Regions from separate parts of the Homo sapiens genome. Here regions 1, 2 and 4 are each reported to be linked to region 3. Evidence: microRNA targets listed by miRTarBase, many of them from high-throughput screens and not tested one by one. Region 3 holds a microRNA gene; each other region holds the end of a gene's coding sequence.
Evidence for each region. Region 3 holds the annotated microRNA hsa-miR-3942-5p (AAGCAAUACUGUUACCUGAAAU, at 2,057-2,078, shown strand). A microRNA usually pairs through its seed, bases 2 to 8, with sites in the 3' UTR of a target mRNA and lowers its output. Matches are read on the target gene's strand: a 7mer-m8 pairs with bases 2 to 8, a 7mer-A1 pairs with bases 2 to 7 and ends in A, and an 8mer does both.

Region 1: the mRNA of ATP6V1E1 is a reported target of hsa-miR-3942-5p. Seed matches in the 3' UTR shown: 7mer-m8 at 428-434.
Region 2: the mRNA of CYP26B1 is a reported target of hsa-miR-3942-5p. Seed matches in the 3' UTR shown: 7mer-m8 at 801-807.
Region 4: miRTarBase lists RPL7L1 as a target of hsa-miR-3942-5p. Seed matches in the 3' UTR shown: 7mer-m8 at 416-422, 7mer-m8 at 722-728 and 7mer-m8 at 846-852.

Annotation. Positions count from the first base shown.
Region 1 is chr22:17,589,913-17,592,994 of GRCh38, reverse strand. It overlaps ATP6V1E1 (ATPase H+ transporting V1 subunit E1), which reads left to right. Exons shown (of 9, transcript NM_001696.4): 9 at 259-859. The coding sequence ends at 321. SLC25A18 (solute carrier family 25 member 18) reads right to left here. Exons shown (of 11, transcript NM_031481.3): 11 at 2,000-2,900. The coding sequence ends at 2,759. Among named protein-coding and RNA genes, the nearest start is that of SLC25A18, 28 kb to the right of the region's middle.
Region 2 is chr2:72,129,381-72,132,448 of GRCh38, reverse strand. It overlaps CYP26B1 (cytochrome P450 family 26 subfamily B member 1), which reads left to right. Exons shown (of 6, transcript NM_019885.4): 6 at 1-3,068. The coding sequence ends at 222. Among named protein-coding and RNA genes, the nearest start is that of CYP26B1, 17 kb to the left of the region's middle.
Region 3 is chr15:35,371,315-35,374,398 of GRCh38, reverse strand. It overlaps MIR3942 (microRNA 3942), which reads left to right and starts at 2,035; the gene lies at 2,035-2,143. DPH6 (diphthamine biosynthesis 6) reads left to right here. Exons shown (of 9, transcript NM_080650.4): 8 at 791-878; 9 at 2,196-3,084. The coding sequence ends at 2,249.
Region 4 is chr6:42,886,292-42,889,375 of GRCh38, forward strand. RPL7L1 (ribosomal protein L7 like 1) reads left to right here. Exons shown (of 6, transcript NM_001366481.3): 6 at 1-3,084. The coding sequence ends at 173. Among named protein-coding and RNA genes, the nearest start is that of PEX39, 3.0 kb to the right of the region's middle.

The sequences.
Region 1 (3,082 bases), not on the chromosome of region 3:
AACATGGTGAAACCCCGTCTCTACTAAAAATACAAAAAAATTAGCCAGGCATGGTGGCAAGCACCTGTAGTCCCATCTACTTGGGAGGCTGAGGCAGGAGAATGGCGTGAGCTTGCAATGAGCGGAGATGCGCCACTGCACTCCAGCCTGGGCGACAGAGCGAGACTCCGTCTCAAAAAAAAAAAAAAAAAAAAGATGTGCAGCGCTCTACAACTTCTTCAGCTGACATTGCGTATTTATTACACTTTCTCTCCACAGATGATGCCAGAAGTCCGGGGAGCCTTGTTTGGTGCAAATGCCAACAGGAAGTTTTTGGACTAAGCCTTCAGGAGGTGGAGCTCGTCGTCAGCTCTCCTGCTGTGATGTGGAAGCTTCTGATATTTGAAGAAACACGAATGTCTCTGTAGCTTCCTCTTCACTGCCCCAGTATTGCTCTGTATTTATCAGCGATGCCCCTCTGTCACTCATGCCTTGCCTAATTGTTCACAATGGTGGAAAGCTTCATGTAATATGATCAGGACCCACCTCCAGTTCTTCTGAAAGTGTGACAGTGTCCAGCCGGTTCTGCAGCACTAGGGGAGGGGGCAGATGGTGGTTGCATGGGCTTCCTGGGTCTCCACTCTCCGTCTGGCCTAAAGGTGATGTATTTGGTGTTTGGCCCTGCAGTCCCCACTCTTGAGGCTTAAGGCGCATGTGGCACACCACTCCTTCCAGCAGTAGTCGCTTTACTGTTACCTGTTTAGGCCTAGAAGTTTTCCCTCATCTGTAAATGTGATTTAAAATCTAAGCCATGAATATGCTTTATTTATTAAAAGAGTTATGCGGATTTAATGTGATTTCTAGTGTAAGGCACTACAAATTTAGGTTTTGACAGAGTCAAATTCTTACTGAGGCACCTAGAAAAGAAGTATTTTCCCAATCCCCGTGGCACTTGATGGTGACAGCTGTCAGCACCTGGACCCGTTAACCCTCTGGGGGTCCCCTGGGCTGTTGCCCGTTGTTCCCAGCCCATCACCAGGAGCATTCTTTCCACCCTTGCAATCTTCCACACACCCCACATGGCTCTTCAGCGTGACGTGCACAACTTTATTGAGGAAATAGTTTTATTAGTGTTGCCCGAATGAGAAAAACCAAGTTGTTTGTTTTTTCTTTTTCTTTTTTTTTTGAGACGGAGTCTCGCTCTGTTGCCCAGGCTGGGGTGCAGTGGTGCCATCTCGGCTCACTGCAAGCTCCGCCTCCCGGGTTCGTGCCATTCTCCTGCCTCAGCTTCCGGAGTAGCCGGGACTACAGGCGCCCGCCACCACGCCTGGCTAATTTTTTGTATTTTTTGGTAGAGACGGGGTTTCACCGTGTTAGCCAGGATGGTCTCGATCTCCTGACCTCGGATCCGCCTGCCTCGGCCTCCCAAAGTGCTGGGATTACAGGCGTAAGCCACGGCGCCAGACCCAAAAAACCGAGTTATTTTGGAGCAGGTCACTGTGTGCTGGAACCAGATCCTTTCACAGAGGCCCTGTTCTTCCTTCCCTGTCCCATGTTTTATTTTTCCGTAGGTGACGACTAAGAGCTGCCCAGGGCCTTGCAGCTAGTACATGGTGGAGCTGGGACTTGAACTGAGGTCTGTCTCCAGGGCCCATACTCAAATGCAGTTCTCATAACAGAGAGTGAGGCCCCCAGGGCTGACCATGTTAGCACCATCCTCTTCCTTGTTAGCCCAGGTTTCACAGTAGATGGGACTATTGTAAACACCAGCTCCTGCAGCAGGTGCTGATTTTCTTAGGACTTGGCCCTGCTGCTGTGACATTATCTCTCCTGTAGCAGCCTTTGGGGGAGGAATCGAGGTGCGTGAGGAGGGCTCTCACAGCAAACTCAGCTCCTCAAGACGATTCACTTATGAAGGGATAGAATCAAGGCTTAAAACCCAGTGTCACTAACAAGCAGATATTTCCCTATGGCTGTGTTCCTCCACCCCCACAAGTAACAGTTTGAAGAGTGACGGGGGTCTGCTTCTATGCCCTTTTTAATGTTTGGTTTTGAAATGGACGTAGAAAAGTAGATGGTGATAGCATTCACTGCAGCCTATCTGCTGTACCCACTGATGAACAGATGAGATTTTAGCCATTCACCTTTATTTCAGAGTGTTCCTTGGTTACAGGGAGGGGTGTGCAAGACCCTGGGCTCTGGGGGAGGGGCTGAGCTGCCCAGTCAGAGCCGGCCTCAGCCCCCTCAGCCATCCAGGGATTCGAAAGGGTGCTTGGTCTCAAACTAGGTGCTGACTCTGAGGGCTTTCACGGTCCCTTGAACTTCTGATCCTCCTTTTCCTCAAAATCAGTGCTAGGACTCATAAGTTATGGAGTCCAAGATTAACAATGCTAAATCCTCAAGCTGACTGAAGAATGCCGAGTTTGACTGTGAAATAGAAATGTTAAAATACAGAAACAACCCTTCTATTGTGACTACCTGTTAAGGTCCTGCAATTAATACAACGAAAGTACCATTTTTGTTGAAAAGTAGGTGGTTAGGGGCTTCCAAAAGCCCCTGGTAGCTGTGCCCACAAAGGAAAACGAGTGTAGACACGAAGGGGAAGAAGGCTGTGCTCAACTTGTTAGAATATAGGGCTGTTTCTCCCGAGATTGAGGTAGCACTACAACGCAGAGGACCAGGCAGGCCAGAGTGGCCCCACCTGCCCTTGCCCCCTCTAGGCTAAGTGAAACAGCTAGAGAGAGGGCGGCAAGCGCAGGGACTTGACCTCCAGCTCTGTCTAGTCAAAACACTTTAAGATGCGCTCTCCAATCCCAATAAAATAGACCCCTTGAGCAATCCCAAAGAGAGGTGCTATGACCAGTGCCCGGCAGCCAGCGCCTTTCATGAAGGCAGATGGTCCCTCCTGAATCCAGAGTTTCCTGGGGAGAAAGAAGAGCCAGTGAGCTGATGGGCAGGGGCATTCTGCAAGCAGCCCTCAGTGGCAGCCTCTCCATTTGTGCACCTCTCATTTTAGAATAGTGCCTTCCACAACAAGAGCAAGAGGCCAACGGTGTGGGAGCTGTGCCTCGCCCGCTAGGTGCATGCAGGTTGGTTACTTATG
Region 2 (3,068 bases), not on the chromosome of region 3:
ACCTGCCTGGGCAAGCACCTGGCCAAGCTGTTCCTGAAGGTGCTGGCGGTGGAGCTGGCTAGCACCAGCCGCTTTGAGCTGGCCACACGGACCTTCCCCCGCATCACCTTGGTCCCCGTCCTGCACCCCGTGGATGGCCTCAGCGTCAAGTTCTTTGGCCTGGACTCCAACCAGAACGAGATCCTGCCGGAGACGGAGGCCATGCTGAGCGCCACAGTCTAACCCAAGACCCACCCGCCTCAGCCCAGCCCAGGCAGCGGGGTGGTGGTTGTGGGAGGTAGAAACCTGTGTGTGGGAGGGGGCCGGAACGGGGAGGGCGAGTGGCCCCCATACTTGCCCTCCCTTGCTCCCCCTCCCTGGCAAACCCTACCCAAAGCCAGTGGGCCCCATTCCTAGGGCTGGGCTCCCCTTCTGGCTCCAGCTTCCCTCCAGCCACTCCCCATTTACCATCAGCTCAGCCCCTGGGAAGGGCGTGGCAGGGGCTCTGCATGCCCGTGACAGTGTTAGGTGTCAGCGCGTGCTACAGTGTTTTTGTGATGTTCTGAACTGCTCCCTTCCCTCCGTTCCTTTCGGACCCTTTTAGCTGGGGTTGGGGGACGGGAAGAGCCGTGCCCCCTTGGGCGCACTCTTCAGCGTCTCCTCCTCCTGCGCCCCCACTGCGTCTGCCCAGGAACAGCATCCTGGGTAGCAGAACAGGAGTCAACCTTGGCGGGGCGGGGGCTGCGTCCAACCTGGAGATTGCCCTTCCCTATGCCACGGTTCCCACCCTCCCTCACCAGTTTGGACAATTTGAAATTACCTATTGCTGCTACTTGTTCTGTCCTCTGACCTTGGGGCAAAGGAGCCCCAGGCCCTGTCTCCCCAGCATCCTCCCTGGTGGCCCTGGGCAGGTGCACTGACACCCCCACCTTCCCATCCCCTGCTGAACCAGGCCCTGTTACACACAGCCGCCTAAGGCCCGCGGCTCATGTGCTGCCCGCCCCCATATTTATTCACTGATAGAGAATCTTGGGGATGCTGGGGTCTGGAGTGAACATCTCCTCCCCTTCATGCCCTAGCCTGTGTTCTAGCTGTCCTGGCGAGACTTCTGTGAGTGAAGAGGAAGGGGTCTCTGGTCAAACCCAGCCCCCAGGGCCTAGGGTTGAAAGCCTTCCCCGGCTCCGGGCATTATTTGGGTTTAATCTCGGAGCCTCACTCCTGGACTGAAGTCCGGTGCCTCTGCCTTATCCCTGGTGGAGATGGAATGTGGCCCATTGCCTCCTCCCTCTCCTGTCAAAAACCCTGATCAGGTAGATTTGGAGGCGGCCACGATTTCCTGTTTGGCCCCTGTTCACCCCAGTGCACTGGCCCTGACTCCAGGCGTGAGTATGGGGAAGGATACGGGTTCTTCTGACGGGGAGCAAGGGCCTCCGTCTTCCCTTCCTTAACTCTCCCCCTTTGCCCTCCGCCCTGAAAAAGGTGTCCTTGAAGTCCCTTCCACCTCTATGCCACTGTCTGCTTAGCCCAGCTCAGGGGTGGGGAAGAGGCGAAAGCGTGGGGGAGGTGAGCGCAGCGGCAGTTCTGCCTCGGAGCTGATTGCAGGGCCCTGTGTGGTCTCCGGACAGCTGCGGGAAGGCTGCCGCAGCTGAAGCTGAAGAGGCGGCTACGTGCGGTTTGTCAGGGGGATTGGGTTGAAAACTGGCCAGTCGGGATGACTGGGTGAAAGAGGAGTAGCTCCTGCCACTGGCGTTTTGAGTGTTGGCAATTTGGGATGCCTCCTGGGGAAGGTTTCCGGGCGTTTGGTGAGTCTCTAGATTTTTCCTTGCTTTCTGTGTTTATTGGTTTTTGATGTTGTAAAAGCAATGAATCCCCTTTACAAGAAAATCGAAAACACAGAAGAATGAAGGACATGCCAGTCCCCGATCGCTGCTGTGAGCACCTCAGTGGCTCCCTCAGACCAGATCCCGTAGGCAGCCCCACAGACCGACCCTGACCCCACTCACAGCCACCCTGAAGATAGACTATAGGAACGGGCCCATACCACACAGACTGCTCTCCAATCCCTGAGTCTCAGATGTTTCATTTATTTCCTACTTTTCCACTACTAAAAAACAGTGTGGAATAGACATTATTGGCAAAATTGCTCATCCCTAATCCTGAAAAACAGGCCAGAATGGGTAAAGACTTGTCAAAGCTTGCAACATAGCTACATGGTGCACCCGGACCTGTACCCCCTCCCCCCAACACAAAACCAGTGTCTGGGAGGTTCATTTTCCTTTAAACTGATCCAGCTGGCCCTGAACCAATTGTTTTTGACTGAGTATCTAGGAGAGCAGTAAGTGGAACTTCAGACAAGCCCACTGGGTCTGGTCCAGGTGAGGGGCAGGGGGCATGGGGCTGGGAGGTCTCAGGGGCCTTCCCTGGGGGTGGCCAGCCTGGTAGGGGGCAGAGAAGGAAAAGCTGAGGGGGGTCCCTGTGAGGGAGGAAAGAAGGATCATTTGCCCCGCTGGGTCTCAAAGGCAGTGAGAAGAGAGCTGAAGAAAGCTCTGGCTGGCTGACAGGATCCCTGTGTTGTAATTGGTCCCTCCTTTCAGCTCTCTAGTGAGATGCCCGTGTCTGTGCGTGTGCGTGTGTGTTTCATACAGCTAGCATTAGATGGGTGATGTTTCTTACTTATCATCCCTAACTATTGCAACTTGACCTTAAAAAGACAAAACCCCACAAAACTCTTCCTGCCACGGGCTTGCAGATTGAAGCACTTTCGATGTTGGGCGCTGGCGTTTGTGTTCTGGGCACCACCGTGACCCTGCCCAGATGGCTATAATATTATTTTATACACAAACCTTTTTTTTCATAAATGTTATAATTTTGTGTCTGTCTTTATAAACTATTATAAGTACTATTTTTGTTATAATTCAAAATAGATATTTAGTATAAAGTTTTTGCTGTTAAATATTTGTTATTTAGTAAAATATGAATTTTGCTCTATTGTAAACATGGTTCAAAATATTAATATGTTTTTATCACAGTCGTTTTAATATTGAAAAAGCACTTGTGTGTTTTGTTTTGATATGAAACTGGTACCGTGT
Region 3 (3,084 bases):
TGGTCAAAATGCTAACTATTAATATAAACAATAGAAGTACTTCCCAAGGCACTAAAGTGATATGAGGAATTTCTATTTTTAAATTTTCAGTTGAAATTCAAAACATTATTACTCTCTTAATAAACAATAAAAAATAATTCATTATTAGAACTTTACACATAATCTTAGTTATTCAAATGTGCTTTACAGGGTATCTTTGATAAAAGTTGAGTTAATTTACATGTATCCATATGGTGCCAGCATGCAGTTCATACCATTTTACCTGAATGTGGTCATTACTATGTCAGACAATCAATTTTAATAGCAATGATACTGCAGTGTGAAGAGTTCATCTAGAGCTTAAAATCATCACCAGTACTGCTTTTGTGAAGGATAATTGAGATTTTGTGTGAAACATTGAATGAATTACCTCTTGAAAATGAAAAGAATAATGAAGATAAAGCACTAATGTTTAATGCTTAGCCTATACCAAGCAAATACGTGAAAATGAAATTGAACAGGAATTTAAGTCTTAAAATTGTTCAGAGAGCTTTGAGTGAACCTGAAAGTTGAACTCTTATGTTCTTATGAAGATAGAAAGCCTCATTGTTTTTTCTTAAAAGCTTAGTATACTTGAACCTTTTCCCAATTAAATACTGGGTTATTAAAAATATTTATTAATCACTACATGTTGTATACCAATGGAGATAAATATAAAACAAGAATGTTTAGTCTCTTCTAGTCAGTAGGAGGAATGATTTGTCACAATTTTTGTAGCATATAAATGTATTGTAAAATTTTTGTATTTCAGGGATTCATCAGAAGTAGTCATACATTCAGCTGATGCATTTGCACCTGTGGCTTATCTACGCTTTTTAGAATTGCACTTGGAGGACAAGGCAAGTAAATCTAAGATTCACAGTGATTTCAATAGAAATTTGAGATATATACATTGGCTTTGCATATATAATTCTGTAACAACAGATGACAGGAAAAAGAAAATTGATTTTTATCATTAGTGGTTTTTTTTCAGCTCCTCAGTCAATAACTAAGAATTTTACAAATGCTTATAGTTTTGAGTTATATATGATACAAAAGATACTACATTTATGAAAAGTTTGCAGGTCAGTTAAAAAGGGAATAGTATATACATTAAACAATGGGAGGACAATATAAAATCAAATATTAAATCATCTAGCAGGATCACATTTAAGTTACTGTACATAAGCATTAAGGGAAGGGTTTGAGGATAAATTGGATTGTCATTATTCAAAGCTTAAGAGAGGAAAAGGAGAAATAAAACCTTTACAAAAATATCCAGGAAAAGAGAAGTAAAAATGGAAGATGGAAAGTGAAGCAAAATTACAATAAAGAGTTTTATTTTAAATACACTGTCAAGATACAGTAAAATTTTAATTTAAAGATATCTTGTGGAATAAAGTTCTGGATTAGATTCCTTGATTGAGAGGTCTCATCCTTCAGATGTTGCTTTATATTAGTTACCATAAAAATGATAGCTGAAATTATGTGAAGAAATGAGTGTAGTGACAGAAAAGGATTAGAAAATGTCTTCTGTATATTTAGTGTTCTTTCCCCCAAGTCTTGAGGCACACCCACAGTTACATATTTTACATCATAGGAAATCTGAAGGAGTAAGAGGATTAACAAGAATTCGGCAAAAGTAGGAAAAGAGTGGTAATGCCAAAAATCTCAAGATGAGAGGGTTTCTACAGGTGAGGATAATTATAGGTGCCAGTTCTCCAGAAGAATGACAATGGGCAGGATTAAAAATAGGTTGTGGAATTGGGCTGGATGATGACTATTGGTGACCTTTTATCAAAAAGCTGGTAACCCCCACAAGAATTAAGTTACACTATCCAAATGTTTTTCAGATTTACTTGAACCCCTAACTTGTAGTTTTCTGCTACTTTTGCTACCATGTACGCACACACAAAGTCAAAAGCACTGAATTCATGTGTAGGCATTCCAGCCATTCTATGTTCAGCTCTACCCGAATAGCTCACTGTTCACCTCGTTGTTTTGGTATTTGATTGGTCTTCAGTATGACACCTCAAAGAAGCAATACTGTTACCTGAAATAGGCTGCGAAGATAACAGTATTTCAGATAACAGTATTACATCTTTGAAGTGTCATATTCACTGACACTGAATAAATATGGTGCATTTTCCTTCCCTTTCCTTCCCTTTTTTTTTTAGGTGTCCTCAGTGCCTGACAACTACAGAACATCTAATTATATATATAATTTTTGAAAAGTGTTTTGGAACATTGTTCATTAAACCACCATTTCTATACAAAAAAATTGCATAGTATTTTCTCAGTTACTATGACTAGTTTATTTTTTTCTCATGACTCTTATTTTTTTAGAGAAACATACTTTCACTAGAAGAGGTTAGTGGAACCATTTATTAATTGGGAAAATGTCGACGGCATGTTCATTAATAGTGCCAACTTTCTTGGAATTCACTCTTTCTCTTTCGTTAACACATCTTCCCTATGACCTTTTTTTTCTTTTATTTCATCTATAAACCCCATTTCTGTAGCATTTCTTTTTTTATCACACTAGTTTCTTTTCCTCCTTCTCTCTTTCTTGCTCCAATCCCTACCAATAATGTCATGATGCAGAGGCATTTGAAAATGAAGATGAAAAGATGGTCACTTTATTTAGCCAGTCAAGCTTATTCTACTGGGTGTCGCCAAAGCGATTTATCATTTTTATTTTAAATATATTCATGGTTGAAGTGTTTCAACGTTATTGGACAATTAGGAAGAATGTCCTTAACTCTTACAAGTTATTTTATAACTGATTTTTAAAATGCTGTTTTTCAGTATTAACTATGTTGACCTTAGAAAACTTTTACAAAAAATAGACTTTATGTTTTAGAACAGTTTTAGGTTCACAGCAAAAATGGAGCAGAAAATGCAGAGATTTCCCATATACCCTCTACCTCCACACATTCACAGCCTCCCCTACCGTCAATGTCTTATAATAGAGTGGTACATTTGTTACAACTGATGAACCTACATTGACACATTATTATCACCCAAAGTCCATAGTTTACGTGAGGGTTCACTCTTGGTGTTGTA
Region 4 (3,084 bases), not on the chromosome of region 3:
ATGAAATTGCCTTCCCAGGGAAGCATTTCCAGGAGATCTCATGGTTCTTGTGCCCTTTCCACCTCTCAGTGGCCCGTCATGCTACCAAAAATAGAGTGGGCTTCCTCAAGGAGATGGGCACACCTGGCTATCGGGGTGAACGCATCAATCAGCTCATCCGTCAGCTGAACTAGACCCAGGTGAGGCAGGGCTGAAAACTGCCCTTGGGCTGACTTTTGATAGGCCATGCCTTGCCACTTTACAAGTTCTTTTTGCATTTACTAGTATTTAAGAGTAACCTTGAGATTGGGAGGAATAGAGGAGGCTGGTACAAATAGATGGAGACCTGCTGGGATCAGTGAATGCCTGATTAGGACATGGGGCTATGCATAGCCTAAGAGTTATAGGCTTAAAGATGTCGAGTAACTAAAAACTGTATTGCTGGCCGGGCGCGGTGGCTCACGCCTGTAATCCCAGCACTTTGGGAGGCCAAGGCGGGCAGACCATGAGGTCAGGAGATTGAGACCATCCTGGCCAACATGGTGAAACCCTGTCTCTACTAAAAATACAAAAATGAGCTGGGTGTGGTGGCGCGTGCCTGTAGTCCCAGCTACTCGAGAGGCTAAGGCAGGAAAATCGCTTGAACCCAGGAGGCAGAGATTGCAGTGAGCCAAGATTGCACCAGTGCACTCCAGCTGGGCGACAGAGCGAGACTCCATCTCGGAAAAAAAAAAAAAAAAACTATTGCTGCAGTCATTCAGATGGAAATGAGGAAAGAATAATATTAATAACTGATTTCAAAAAGGACTTGAAGATGTGAATCATCTATTTTGCTGAAGAAATCTTAACTCTTTGAAATTACTTTTTATTGCTGTTGTCATACTCTTAGGTGCCAAACTGCGGTAAATTTTTTATCAGTGAAGTGGAAGCATGTGTTTTGTTTTGGAAATTTTTATCAAGTATCTTCAGAGAAGATTATTTCCTGCTTTATCTTCAGAAACTGGAAAGGGTCAAAGAAAAGACAGTAGCTGGCCGGTCGTGGTGGCTCATGCCTGTAATCCCAACACTTAGGGAGGCTGAGGTGGGCAGATCACCTGAGGTTGGGAGTTCGAGACCAGCCTGACCAACATGGAGAAATGCCATCTCTACTAAAAATACAAAAATTAGCCGGGCATGGTGGCACGTGCCTGTAATCCCAGCTACTCAGGAGGCTGAGGCAGGAGAATCGCTTGAACCTGGGAGGTGGAAGTTGCAGTGAGCTGAGATCACGCCATTGCACTCCAGCCTGGGCAACAAGCGAAACTCTGTCTCAAAAAAAAAGAAAAGACAGTAGCATATGTTCATGTCAAGCACCTCTCATCACAGTCGAGTTCCAAGGAAAAATTCCAGTGTTTTCTGCATTGGGTGCTGTGTCATCTGAAATCGGCACATTCCATGGAGGAAGGAGTCCTGCTTTGTTGCATGTATCCTAGGGTTTAATGTTGGTAAATGAGTCACTCTAGCATTTGTAGAAGGCTCCCTGAGACTCCTGCAGCAGTCGACCAAGCCCAAGGACATAATTGAATCTGGAGAGTCCTGGGGCCTTGTTTTGAAAAAGACTTGAAATACACATAGGAAGAAAGGCATAAAAATAAATGTTCACTTGTCTCTGCTGTGAGTATGTGTTCCAACTTTTCAGTGATGGCTTTGAGAATTCTCAAACTTGACTGGCTCTAAGTGTATCTGGTGGCTTTTGTATCGTAACCTGAAACTGGCTTAGTACTTTTTCCTAAAAGCTCAGGATTTGAGAATGAGGACCCCTTCGCCAGGAAAACATGTATACACTCAAAATTTTGCTTGCAGTTCTAGGGTGTTTAGACCCTTCTCAGATACCTGTGCATCTTATGGGTTTTGTTTTTCTCTTTGAGACAGTCTCACCCTGTTGCCCAGGCTGGAGCGCAGTGGCATGATCTCAGCTCATTGCAGCCTCCACCTCCTGGGTTCAAGTGATTCTGCCTCAGCCCCTTGATCAGCTGGGATTACATGCATGTACCACCACACCCAGCTAATTCTTGTATTTTTAGTAGAGATGGAGACAGAGTTTCACCATGTAGGCCAGGCTAGTCTCAAACTCCTGACCTCAAGTGATCCACAAGCCTGGGCCTCCCAAAGTGCTGGGATTACAGGCATGAGCAACTGCGCCCAGCTCTTGTGTACCTTATGTGAGGAAGTCCTGCTCAATCAGGATCGGTCACGCAGGCCCTGATCTTGCTACTCTGGTTCCATGTCCTATGGAAGACCAAAGTTTACCAAGATAGATTTTTCCCTTCATAGTGGCAGATAGTGTTAACCCCTGCACCATCTGTAACTCAGAAATCCCCACCATTTCTTCCCCTGGGCTTCAGAATAGAATTGCCTGGTTTCTCTGATGATCAGCATGGTTCCTTAAAACCCAAATCAGCAAGGAATGAACAATTTTGTTTGGCATGGATGAAATTAGCACTGTTTGGCTCGTTAGGCCCCAGGCAGGCAGGCACCTTAATTTTTTCCTTGCATATTCTAGTCTTCAGAAGCATTGCCTTTTGTCCTACTGGTAGTGACATAGACCAATAACAGGGCATCTGGGGATTTTAATCCTGAAAACAGTGAGTCTGATACTGCTTGTGTTTTTCATCAGTGTCCACCCCAAGTGGGTCTTCCTGCTATTCTCTTCACTTAGTTGCCCCTCACTTGCCATCTGAGCAATTGGCAAGGATGTGCCAGGCCTAGGTTAAACTTGGAAACATGCTTGACCATTCTATTCCCTGGTCCTTTAAGATCAGTTTGGCTGCAATTTTGGCTCCTTGGACCCTCAAGCATAGCTGGTAAATCAAGTTAGAGATGTAACTGCCTTAAAACATGCCAGCTTAGGCTGGGCACGGTGGCTCACACCTGTAATCTCAACACTTCAGGAGGCTGAGGCAGGCAGATCACTTGAGGTCAGGAGTTCGAGACCAGCCTGACCAACATGGAGAAATTCTGTCCCTACTGAAAATACAAAATTAGCCGGATGTGGTGGTGCATGCCTGTAATCCCAGCTACTTGGGAGGCTGAGGCAAGAGAATTGCTTGAACCCAGGGAGGCAGA